Linked DNA regions of Homo sapiens: regions 1, 2 and 3 are each linked to region 4. Evidence: fine-mapped expression QTL. A gene starts in region 4. Each other region holds a variant in brackets. All regions are shown on one strand. Distances are between the middles of the regions.

What was found.
Region 1: its variant is fine-mapped to the expression of COX14 in prefrontal cortex (BrainSeq, PIP 0.94).
Region 2: its variant is fine-mapped to the expression of COX14 in whole blood (TOPMed, PIP above 0.99).
Region 3: its variant is fine-mapped to the expression of COX14 in lymphoblastoid cells (GTEx, PIP 0.98).

The regions. Positions count from the first base shown.
Region 1 is chr12:50,162,931-50,165,430 of GRCh38, reverse strand. The region is part of intron 1 of CERS5 (ceramide synthase 5); the gene reads left to right. It overlaps LOC124902931 (a long non-coding RNA gene), which reads right to left. Exons shown (of 2, transcript XR_007063304.1): 2 at 1-405. Among named protein-coding and RNA genes, the nearest start is that of CERS5, 3.2 kb to the left of the region's middle. The variant AT/T (reference allele first, on the strand shown) is at 1,470.
Region 2 is chr12:50,168,994-50,171,737 of GRCh38, reverse strand. No RefSeq gene overlaps it. Among named protein-coding and RNA genes, the nearest start is that of CERS5, 3.0 kb to the right of the region's middle. The variant C/G (reference allele first, on the strand shown) is at 1,576.
Region 3 is chr12:51,056,668-51,059,387 of GRCh38, reverse strand. LETMD1 (LETM1 domain containing 1) reads right to left here. Exons shown (of 9, transcript NM_015416.5): 8 at 1,260-1,356; 9 at 1-27. Among named protein-coding and RNA genes, the nearest start is that of LETMD1, 9.7 kb to the right of the region's middle. The variant G/TAAAG (reference allele first, on the strand shown) is at 981.
Region 4 is chr12:50,110,714-50,113,457 of GRCh38, reverse strand. It overlaps COX14 (cytochrome c oxidase assembly factor COX14), which reads right to left and starts at 1,222. Exons shown (of 2, transcript NM_032901.4): 1 at 1,157-1,222. GPD1 (glycerol-3-phosphate dehydrogenase 1) reads right to left here. Exons shown (of 8, transcript NM_005276.4): 8 at 2,145-2,744. RefSeq lists enhancers at 893-942, 953-1,192, 1,413-1,672, 1,733-1,782.

The sequences.
Region 1 (2,500 bases), 52 kb before region 4:
TCTTTTTTTTTTGAGACGGAGTCTCGCTCTGTCGCCCAGGCTGGAGTGCAGTGGCGCGATCTCAGCTCACTGCAAGCTCCGCCTCTCGGGTTCACGCCATTCTCCTGCTTCAGTCTCCCGAGTAGCTGAAACTACAGGCGCCCGCCACCATGTCCGGCTAATTTTTTGTATTTTTAGTAGAGACGGGGATTCACCGTCTTAGCCAGGAAGGTCTCGATCTCCTGACCTCGTAATACGCCTGCCTCGGCCTCCCAAAGTGCTGGGATTACAAGCGTGAACCGCCGCGCCCGGCCTTGTTTTGTCTTTTTACGTGTAATCGTTGTAGTTAGTCATCCTGGAGTGGAGGCACAAACTGCTTGTCTGTCTTTGGAATAAACTAGATCCAGGTACTCTCTTCCATAGTCTCTGTATATGAGGGCCAAAAAAAAAAAGGAGGAAGGCAATGTAATCACTACAAAGGAAAATACACAAGTCAGGACAAATTTTTTTTTAAAAGGTGATTTTCATAGAAAAACATCTCTGCTTTTCATATAAATATGTGCCAATATGGAAATTTCCCCATGTTAGTGGTAAGAGGAAATAGTTTTGTTGCTTATAAACACCCATTTTATATAAACTTACGTATCTCTTGAGATTCCAAAGTGTTCCCTCAGATGGCTGAAGACATATATCCCCTGGCAGAGCTGCTGGAAGGGATCCTTTACCTGTGGGAATTCTATCTGAGTGTTTCTATGGTGCTCCAGTGTCAGAGGAGTACAGGTGGATGGGAATACTGAGCTGAAAGCATTCTAGTATGATAATTCTTGGCTAGTAAAGACAGGCACCTTGTTTGTCTCATGTTTGCTCTTAGGAAAGTTTAACCCTAGAAGCACTCTTGCTATTTTGTTTCTTTTAAGACCCATTACCTCAGTAATATAATTCACTGCTGACTTGCCAATTCCTCTTTTACCGTTCTGGTCTTCCATAAAGAAAATAGACCACTCCACTCTTATTGTTGTTTTTGAGACAGGGTCTCAGCCTCACCCAGGCTGGACTGCAGTGGCACGAAGCTCACTCCAGCCTCGACCTCTTTGGCTCAAGCAATCCTCCTACCTCAGCCTCCCAAGTAGCCAGGACCATAGGTGCACACCACTATGCCCAGCTAATTAAAAAAAAAAAAAAAAATTGGGAGAGCGGGGCATGGTGGCTCACACCTGTAATCCCAGCACTTTGGGAGGCCGAGGCAGGGAGATCACTTGAGGCCAGGAGTTCGAGACCAGCCTGGCCAACATGGTGAAACCCCATCTCTACTAAAAATATAAAAATTAGCTGGGCATAGTGGTACATGCCTGTAATCCCAGCTACTCAGGAGGCTGAGGCATGAGAATTGCTTGAGTTGGAGAGGCAGAGGTTGCAGTGAGCCAAGATCACACTGTTGCACTCCAGCCTGGGCTGCAGAGGAAAACTCTGTCTCAAAAAAAAAAAAAAAA[AT/T]TGTAGAGGCTGGGCATGGTGGCTCATGCCTGTAATCCCAGCACTTTGGGAGGCCGAGGAGGGCAGATCACTTGAGCCTAGGAGTTTGAGACCAGCCTTGGCAACATGGTGAAACCTTGTCTCTACAAAAAAATTTAAAAATTAGCTGGGTGTGATGGTGCATGCCTATAGTCTCTAGTCTCATCTACTTGGGAGGCTGAGGCAGGAGGATTGCTTGAACCCGGGAGGTTGAGACTGCAGTGAGCCGTGATCAAACCACTGTACTTCAGCCTGGGTGATAGAGTGAGACCCTGTCTCAGAAAAATAAATAAAATAAATTTTTGTAGAGGCCTGAGCTCCTGGCCTCAAGCGATCCTGCTGCCTCAGCTTCCCAAAGTTTTGGGATTACTGGCATGAGCCACTGCCCCTGGCCTAGAGCCACTTGTAGAATGCAATAGAAGGCATATCAAAAATATCGGGGCATGGCCTTGCATGCTGGCTCACACCTGTAATCCCAGCACTTTGGGAGGCCGAGGCAGGCAGATCACTTGAGGTCAGGAGTTTGAGACCAGCCTGGCTAACAACATGAAATCTCATCTCTACTAAAAATACAAAAATAGCCCCGCGTAGTGGCGGGCGCCTGTAATCCCAGCTACTTGGGAGGCTGAGGCAGGAGAATGGCTTGAACCTGGAAGGTGGAGGTTGCAGTGAGCTGAGATCGTGCCACTGGACTCCAGCCTGGGCAACAGAGCGACACTCCATCTCAAAAATAAATAAATATTGGGGCCTGGCATGGTGGCTCACACCTGTAATCCCAACACTTTGGAGGCCAAGGTGAGAGAATTGCTTGAGACCAGGACTTTGAGATCAGCCTGGGCAGCATAGCGAGACCCTGATCCTACAAAAAATAAAAATGTTAGCCAGATGTGGTGGCATGCATCTGTAGTCCCAGCTACTCAGGAGGCTGATGCAGGAAGATGGCTTGAGCCCAGGAGTTCAAAGCTGCAATGAACTATGATAGCGCCAGTGCACTCCAGCCTGGGCAAAGGAG
Region 2 (2,744 bases), 58 kb before region 4:
CCAGCCTGGCCAACATGGTGAAACCTCGTCTCATAAAAATACAAAAATTAGGCCGGGCGCAGTGGCTCACGCCTGTAATCCCAGCACTTTGGGAGGCCAAGGTGGGCGGATTACGAAGTCAGGAGATTGAGACCATCCTGCTAATACAGTGAAACCCCGTCTCTACTAAAAATACAAAAAAATTAGCCGGGTGTGGTGGCGGGCGCCTGTAGTCCCAGCTACTAGGGAGGCTGAGGCAGGAGAATGGCGTGAACCTGGAAGGCGGAGCTTGCAGTGAGCCGAGATCGCGCCACTGCTCTCCAGCCTGGGCGACAGAGCTAGACTCCGTCTCAAAAAAAAAAAAAAAAAAAAAAAAAATTCGGCCGGGCGTGGTGGCTCAAGCCTGTAATCCCAGCCATTTGCGAGGCCCAGGCGGGTGGATCACTTGGGTCAGGAGTTCCATGGCCAACATAGCGAAACACAATCTCTACTAAAAATACAAAAATTAGCAGGGCATGGTGGAGCCTGCCTGTAATCCTAGCTACTCGGGAGGCTGAGGGGAGAGAATAGCTTGAATCCAGGAGACGGAGGCTGAAGTGAGCCGAGATCCCGCCAGTGCACTCCAGCCTGGGCTACAGACCGAGACTCCGTTTCAAAAAAAAAAAAAAAAAAGCCGGGCGCGGTGGCTCACGCCTGTAATCCCAGCACTTTGGGAGGCCGAGGCGGGCGGATCACGAGGTCAGGAGATCGAGACCATCCCGGCTAAAACGGTGAAACCCTGTCTCTACTAAAAATACAAAAAATTAGCCGGGCGTAGTGGCGGGCGCCTGTAGTCCCAGCTACTTGGGAGGCTGAGGCAGGAGAATGGCGTGAACCCGGGAGGTGGAGCTTGCAGTGAGCTGAGATCCCGCCACTGCACTCCAGCCTGGGCGACAGAGCGAGACTCCGTCTCAAAAAAAAACAAAAAACAAAAAACAAAACAAAACAAACAAACAAAAAAAACACTTTAGGCTGGGCGGAGTGGCCTCACGCCTGTAGTCCCAGCACTTTGGGAGTGTGAGAAATCGGAAAGTTCTTCAAAGATTATAAAAAGTCACAATTTCTTACTATAAGATTGCTATCCACTGTGTGTGTGTGTGTGTGTGTATGTATGTGTGTGTGTGTGTGTGTGTGTGTGTGTGTGTGTGTGTGTATTCCAAATCAGCTGTCCTAGATTGCTCCTGCATGCCTGGACAGAACTAGACAAGCCCCAGCCCACAGTGCATGCCATTCCTTATTTGGTGATGCTTCCTTAATGATCCCTGGGCAACTTCCTTTTCTTTCTTTGTTCTGTTCCCCTTAACCAATTTTAAAAGTTTTAAACTAATAGCCAATCAGGTAAAGTGTAAAATGTGAGGTCCTATTCCAGCCAATGGAAAATGGACACAGCAGTAGGGTAGACACCTCAGATTATAAATAACTCTGTCTCCTTTGTTCGGTGTGCTCTCATGGCTAGACAGCTTTTGAGTAGCAGCACCCTTTCTGCAGAAAGTAAAGCTCTCCTTGCTGAGAGATCATTTGTTCCCGTGTTTTTTTGTTTTTGTTTTGTTTTCTTTT[C/G]TTTTCTTTTTGCAACACCAAAAACTTCATTCCCAACAGGGATACTGAGACAGGCAGATCACTTGAAGTCAGGAGTTCGAGACCAGCCTGGCCAACATGGTGAAACCCCAGGCTCTATCAAAAAATACAAAAATTAGTCGGGTGTGGTGGCACGTGTCTGTAGTCCCAGCTACTCGGGAGGCTGAGAAGGGAGGATCTCTTGAACCCAGAGGTGGAGGTTGCAGTGAGCAGAAATGGCACCACTGCGCTCCAGCCTGGGTGTGAGACTCCTTCTCACAAAAAAACATGCAAACAAACAAAACAGCCAAATTTAAAGGAGTTTTTTGTTTGTTTGTTTGTTTTGTTTTTTCTTTCCAAGACAAAGTCTCACTCCGTTGCCCAGGATAGAGTGCAGTGGTGCTATCTCAGCTCACTGCAACCTCCGCCTCCTGGGTTCAAGCGATTCTCTTGCCTCAGCTTCCCAAGTAACTGGGACTACAGACACGCACCACCACGCCCAGCTAATTTTTGTATTTTTAGTAGAGACGGAGTTTCACCATGTTAGCCAGGATGGTCTCGATCTCCTGACCTGTGATCCGCCTGCCTCGGCCTCCCAAAGTGCTAGGATTACAGGCGTGAGCCACCGTGCCCAGCCTAAAGGAGTTTGAGCAATGTATGATTCTCAAATTGGGCAGCCCCTGAATCACAGCAGATTCAGAGAGACCCAGCATATCCACAGAGACCCAGCATATTCACGTGGTGGAAGATTTATGGACAGCAAAATGAAAGTGAGGTACAGAAACAACCAGATTGGTTACAGATCAGCGTTTGTCTCATTTGAACGTGGTTGGAACAGTTGGCTACATTTGATTGGCCAAAATTCAGTGATTGGCACTGGTGTGGTCTACGTTCGATTTACACCTCCACTTGTTACAGTTCACAATGTACAGAAAACCTTTAGGCCGAACTTAAATATGTAAGGAGGCAGCTTTAGATTAAACTTGACTTAACACTAGCTACCACTTCTTACCTACATAACTTTGGGCAAGTTGTTTGGCCTCACTGGACCTCAGTTTACTTATCCAGTGGGGATAACAAGATCAACTTTATAGGGTGAAGGAGTGAAATAACCTGTGTAAAATGTTCCATGCAGTGCCTGGCACACAGGAAACCTCATCAAACATTGGCTA
Region 3 (2,720 bases), 950 kb before region 4:
TGTGCAGCAAGAGAGACAGCTCAGCTTCTGAAAACACAGTGTTAGTGGTTTGGCTTGGGAACACTGCCTTATAACTGCCTTGTTATATATGGCTTAAGCCTGGAGGCAGGAAGCCAAGTGCAGGGAGGGGTGGAATGAAGAAGCTGTTTTTCTCAAAGTTCCCCTTCTTTGTTTCAGCCCCTGTATGCATGCCTTCCTTTCCTTCTACTATATATTCGTATCAACTCATCCTCTATTTCTCATGTGATTGCAGTAGAAAATTCAGAGATGGTAATGGTACTAAACACCAGTCGCGTTGGGATTCTTCTGGTAGAAGTTGGTGCTCTAGGGACATTTCTCAGCTTCAAGATTAGTAGGCCTACCCTAACATCCAAAGGCCCACAAAACATCAAGACCTAGCCTAAACAGGGGGCAAACAAGCCTAATACATACCCTCAGATGCTTTGTGTTTGGTCAGCAGACTGTTTTTTTTCTGAGTTTGAATGCCTTTAGACCAGTACTTCTCAACGGGGACAATCCTGCCTCTCTCCTCCCCACCCCTAGGACATTTGGCAATGTCTAGAGACATTTTTGGTTGAGACAACTGTGGGTGAAGGGGTGCTACTGGCATCTAGTGGGTAGAGGCTAGGGATACTGCTATAATAAATACCTATAAAGAACAGGATAGGCTGGACATGGTGGCTCACGCCAGTGATCCCAAAACTTTGGGAGGCCGAGGCCAGCGGATCACCTGAGGTCGGGAGTTCGAGATCAGCCTGACCAACATGGAGAAACCTGGTCTCTACTAAAAAAAAATACGAAATTAGCTGGGCGTGGTGGTGCATGCCTGTAATCCCAGCTACTTGGGAGGCTGAGACAGGAGAATCACTTGAACCCAGGAGGCAGAGGTTACGGTGAGCCGAGATCGCACCATTGCACTCCAGCCTGGGCAACAAGAGCGAAACCCCGTCTCAAAATAAATAAATAAATAAATAAATAAA[G/TAAAG]CACAGGATATTCCCCCCATAAGGAAGTGCCAAGGTTGGAAAATTCACACTAGCATGCATTCACTCTTAGGTTTCCACAGTCCCCACTACTCCCTCTTGTCTTATGGCCTACTTCGTTACCTGCCGGGCATGCAGTAGGCATGTGAGTTTGTGCCCTTTCAATTAGATGTATGTATATATATGTCTCACAGTACTCAATAATTAACTCCAAAATGACCTCAGAATAAAATACAAAAGTGACTTGGATTTTAGTGGTATAACCACAGAAATGTGTTTTACCTTTCAGGCTGCAGGAAATCTGCAGCCATTCTCCCAGCCAAGTTCGACACCTATCTTCACCAATATGCGTAGAATTCAGGCCACGGAGATAACAAGCCTATACCACTCAGAACAGAAATGGTCCTTAATAATCATAGAATGATTATGCCAAGGAAATGGAAATCCACAAACAATCCTAAATCTCCTTTAAATAAGTTACAATCTCACCGGGCACGGTGGCTCGTGCCTGTAATCCCAGCACTTTGGGAGGCCGAGGTAGGCGGATCACGAGGTCAGGAGTTGGAGACCAGCCTGGCCAATATGGTGAAACACCATCTCTACTAAAAAATACAAAAATTAGCCAGGCGTGGTGGCATGCACCTGCAGTCCCAGCTACTCGGGAGGCTGAGGCAGGAGAATCACTGGAACCTGGGAGGCGGAGGTTGCAGTGAGCCAAGATCATGCCACTGCACTCCAGCCTGGGCAACAGAGCGAGACTCTGTCTCAAAAAAAAAAAAAAAAGTTACAATCTCATTCCCACATGAAGCCTTTCCTCATGGCAATTTGAAAACTAGTGATGGACAAGATGACAAAAGCAAAGAGTCCTATATAAGCTAAAATAGTAGGTCTAAACTGCAGTATCCTTGCTTTCTGAAGTGCCAGAAGAAAAGAAATACAAACCAAAATTTCTGTGGGCAATTCCTTCCCCCTAGCTAAGTTTCTTGAGAAAAAAGACACAGAAATGAGGTGAGGAGCTGGGCGCAGTGGCTCATGCCTGTAATCCCAACACTTTGAAAGGCCAAGGCGGGAGGATCACTTGAGCCCAGGAGTTCAAGACCAGCCTGGGCAACATAGTGAGACCCTGTCTCTACAAAAATAAAAAATAATTTTATTTTATTTTTTGGGTTTTTTTTGAGACAGAGTCTCACTCTATCACCCAGGCTGGAGTGCAGTGGTGCGATCTTGGCTCACTGCAATCCACCTCCTGGGTTCAAGCAATTCTCATGTCTCAGCCTCCCAAGTACCTGGGATTACAGGCATGTGCCACCACTCCTGGCTAATTAAAAAATAATTTTTAAAAAGGCCGGGCACAGTGGTTCACGGCTGTATTCCCAGCACTTTAGGAGGCCAAGATGGGAGGATTGCTTGAGGCCAGGAGTTCAAGACCAGCTTGGTTAAAATAGTGAGACTGAAAAATAAATAAATATGCTGGGTGCGGTAGCTCACACCTGTAGTCTCGGCACTTTGGGTTGATGGATCTCTTGAGGCCAGGGGTTTGAGATCAGCCTGGCAAACATGGTGAAACCATCTCTACTAAAAATACAAAAAATTAGCTGGGCGTGGTGGTGCACACCTGTAATCCAGCTACTTGGGAGGCTGAGGTAGGAGGATCACTTGAACCGGGAGGCAGAGGTTGCAGTGAGCCAAGACTGTGCCACTGTACTCTAGCCTGGGCAACAGAATGAGACTCTGTCTCAAAAT
Region 4 (2,744 bases):
GTGGCGGGCACCTGTAGTCCCAGCTACTCTGGAGGCTGAGGCAGGAGAATGGCATGAACCCGGAAGGCGGAGCTTGTAGTGAGCCGAGATCCCGCCACGGGACCCCAGCCTGGGCGACAGAGCAAGACTCCGTCTCAAAAAAAAAAAAAAAAAATTGCGTAAACGTATGGGTAGAAGTGCGATTTTGTTACATGCATACACTGCATAGTGGTCAACTCAGGGCTTTTAAGGTATCCATCATCTTTTATCTACTTTTTGTTTGGCACTTAGAGAGTAGTACATCGGCCGGGTACGGTGGCTCACGCCGGTAATCCCAACACTTTGGGAGGCCGAGGCGGGAGGATGGCTTGAGCTCAGGAGTTGGAGACCAGGTTGGGCAACATAGGGAGACCTTTTCTCTATTTAAAAACAACAACAACAACAACAAAAAAAAAACCTTTTTTTAAAAATTACCCGGGCGTGGTGGCGCACACCTGCAGCCTGAGCGACAAAGCAAGACCCTGTCTCAAAATAACATAACATAACATAACATAACATAACATAACATAACGTACATCATGCTACGGAGGCCGCTAAAAAGAACATGGCTTCTGTCATACAGGAGCTTATGGTCTCATGGAGAGGCACTGTGAGAGTTCAGAGACAACAGCTCAAAGACAGGGTGGGGGCTTGAGAAAACTTAGCAGAAAGGTGTAGGGGTGGGAATCGGGGTGGGAGTGGAACTGTCTTTTTAGAAGGATGGCCTGGAGAAGAGGAGCAGTGAGAGCATTCCAGGAAGTGAAAGCGGTCAAGAGGTGGAGCTGGATAGCCGATATGCACGAAGGGTGCCCCGGAGAGCCACTTATCAGGACGCAGAGGTCTATAGAGCAAGGAAGAGGCAGAGTTGGAGCGTGGAGGGTCGAGACGCCAGGCAGGAGTCGAGGTTTGACAGGATTAGCGCTGAGCTCTAGCAAGACTGACCTACTGCTGCGAGGAGCTTGGGCTTGGGCAGGAAGCAGTGCAGCTCGCGGTCCGCAACGCAACAGAAGCGGGTGAATTCAAGGGCACCAGGCCTGCAGACTAGGGGATGGGAGGACGCGGCAAGCGGAGACTGGCCCAGGTGGGCGCGCAGGCAGTGGGACTGGCAGCCCCTGCTCGGCCCTAGCCGGCAGCGTACCTGGATGCTGCAGCTCCTTCGCATCCAACCGAGGCCTCCTCAGGCAGGCAGGGTCTCGAGGCCACTGTCTACGCAACTTCCCAGCACAGCCGAACGCAGCACTCGGAACCAGACACGTGAGGGTAGCGTCCCTGGACAACCCTGAACGCCTCAGCTATTGGTGCAGAAAGCAACTTTCTCCCTCCCACCTGCCGGGTTAGCCTCTAGGATTCGGCTTGCCGCGCTATAAAGGGAACTGCGCATCAGACGCGGCACAACTCCGCCCACTAAGGCGGGAGTCCGCGCAGGCCGTCACTCTGGCTGGAGGCCGGCTTTGAACTTCCGGCTTCCGGGCCCGTTATCCTTACTACGCATCCTCAGACGCGCCGTGCTCTCGGAGAGGCCCGCTGAATTCTGGGGGCTGTGGTTTCTCTCCCTCGAGGGAGGGTCTTTGGCGAGCCAAGCTCTGGAACCGGAAGTTTTAGGATGCTAAATCAGAGTCAGCCAATCCTCAGCCTACGGTGCGGTGACGTCGCCAGTAGCTGGGTAGATTTTCGCAGCCGGCCTTCTGGAGGTGGATCGCGCGCCCCCTAGAGCCCGGCTGTGGGCCTAGTCCAGGTAGGGGCCCGAGGGGCACCGCGATGCCTGGACCGCTAAGGATGCGGCAGCTTGGCCCGTGACCAAGGAATGGGCACAAGGGATGAGAGTCTAACGTTTCCGTCCCGTGTGTGATCTCTATTCTTGCAGGAGGCATGATAAAGCCCCTAAGAAGGGCCGGCAAGGCCGGGGCCAGCTTGCGGCGAGGGCGGGAGGGGGCGCTGGCGGGAGGGGAGAGAGAGGGATGGGGACTGAGTGGGCACCGCCGCTGACCCCTGGAGTAGCTGCGATTATGGAGGAGGGATTTCTTTTTTCATTTTTCCTACGGTAAGAGGGAAAACATACGTGCAATGATACGCGCCAGCACACGCACTGCCACATGCACTGAAGCTCCCTCTCCCAACTCTTCTTGTTTCTGGAAAAAACACGCTTTATTGGGTAGACAAATAGGCCTGATGGGAAGGCCTGAGTCACAGTGCACTGGGGAGTGAACAAAAGTAGGCAAAGTGCTTGAAGCTTCCCCTTTGCCCCCACCTTAACCTCCTGGGGAGGCAGCTCTGGACACTCAGTACCCAGACCTGGGCTCAGCAAGGCCTGGGGTGACTGTGCCCCTCACTCCTGCTGCCTGATCTGGGCAGCCCCACCCTTCACTGGTAAGACAGAATTCTCAAGGGATAGGCGCAGAGAGGAGCCCGCCTCCCTGGTTCATTGGAGAGTAACAGGGTTTTAGCATAATGCTGGCCAGAGCCAGTGTGCCAGGTGCTGCCACACAGGAAGCTGACAGCCCTGCTGGACGGGCGGGAGCCTCTCGGGCCCTCCGGACTATTTATAGCTGGAGGCCTAGGCTGCTGACCTGTGACATTCCTCTGCTGCCACCCCATCCTGGAGCAAGGCAAGTGCAGAGCACACTCCTCCTCCTCCCCTCCTGTTCTTTCCTCACCCCAGGGAGTAGGGTGGTTTTGATTTTCTTCCTCCTCCTTGAGTTTCCCAGCTCTCGAGTTGCTGGTGTTGT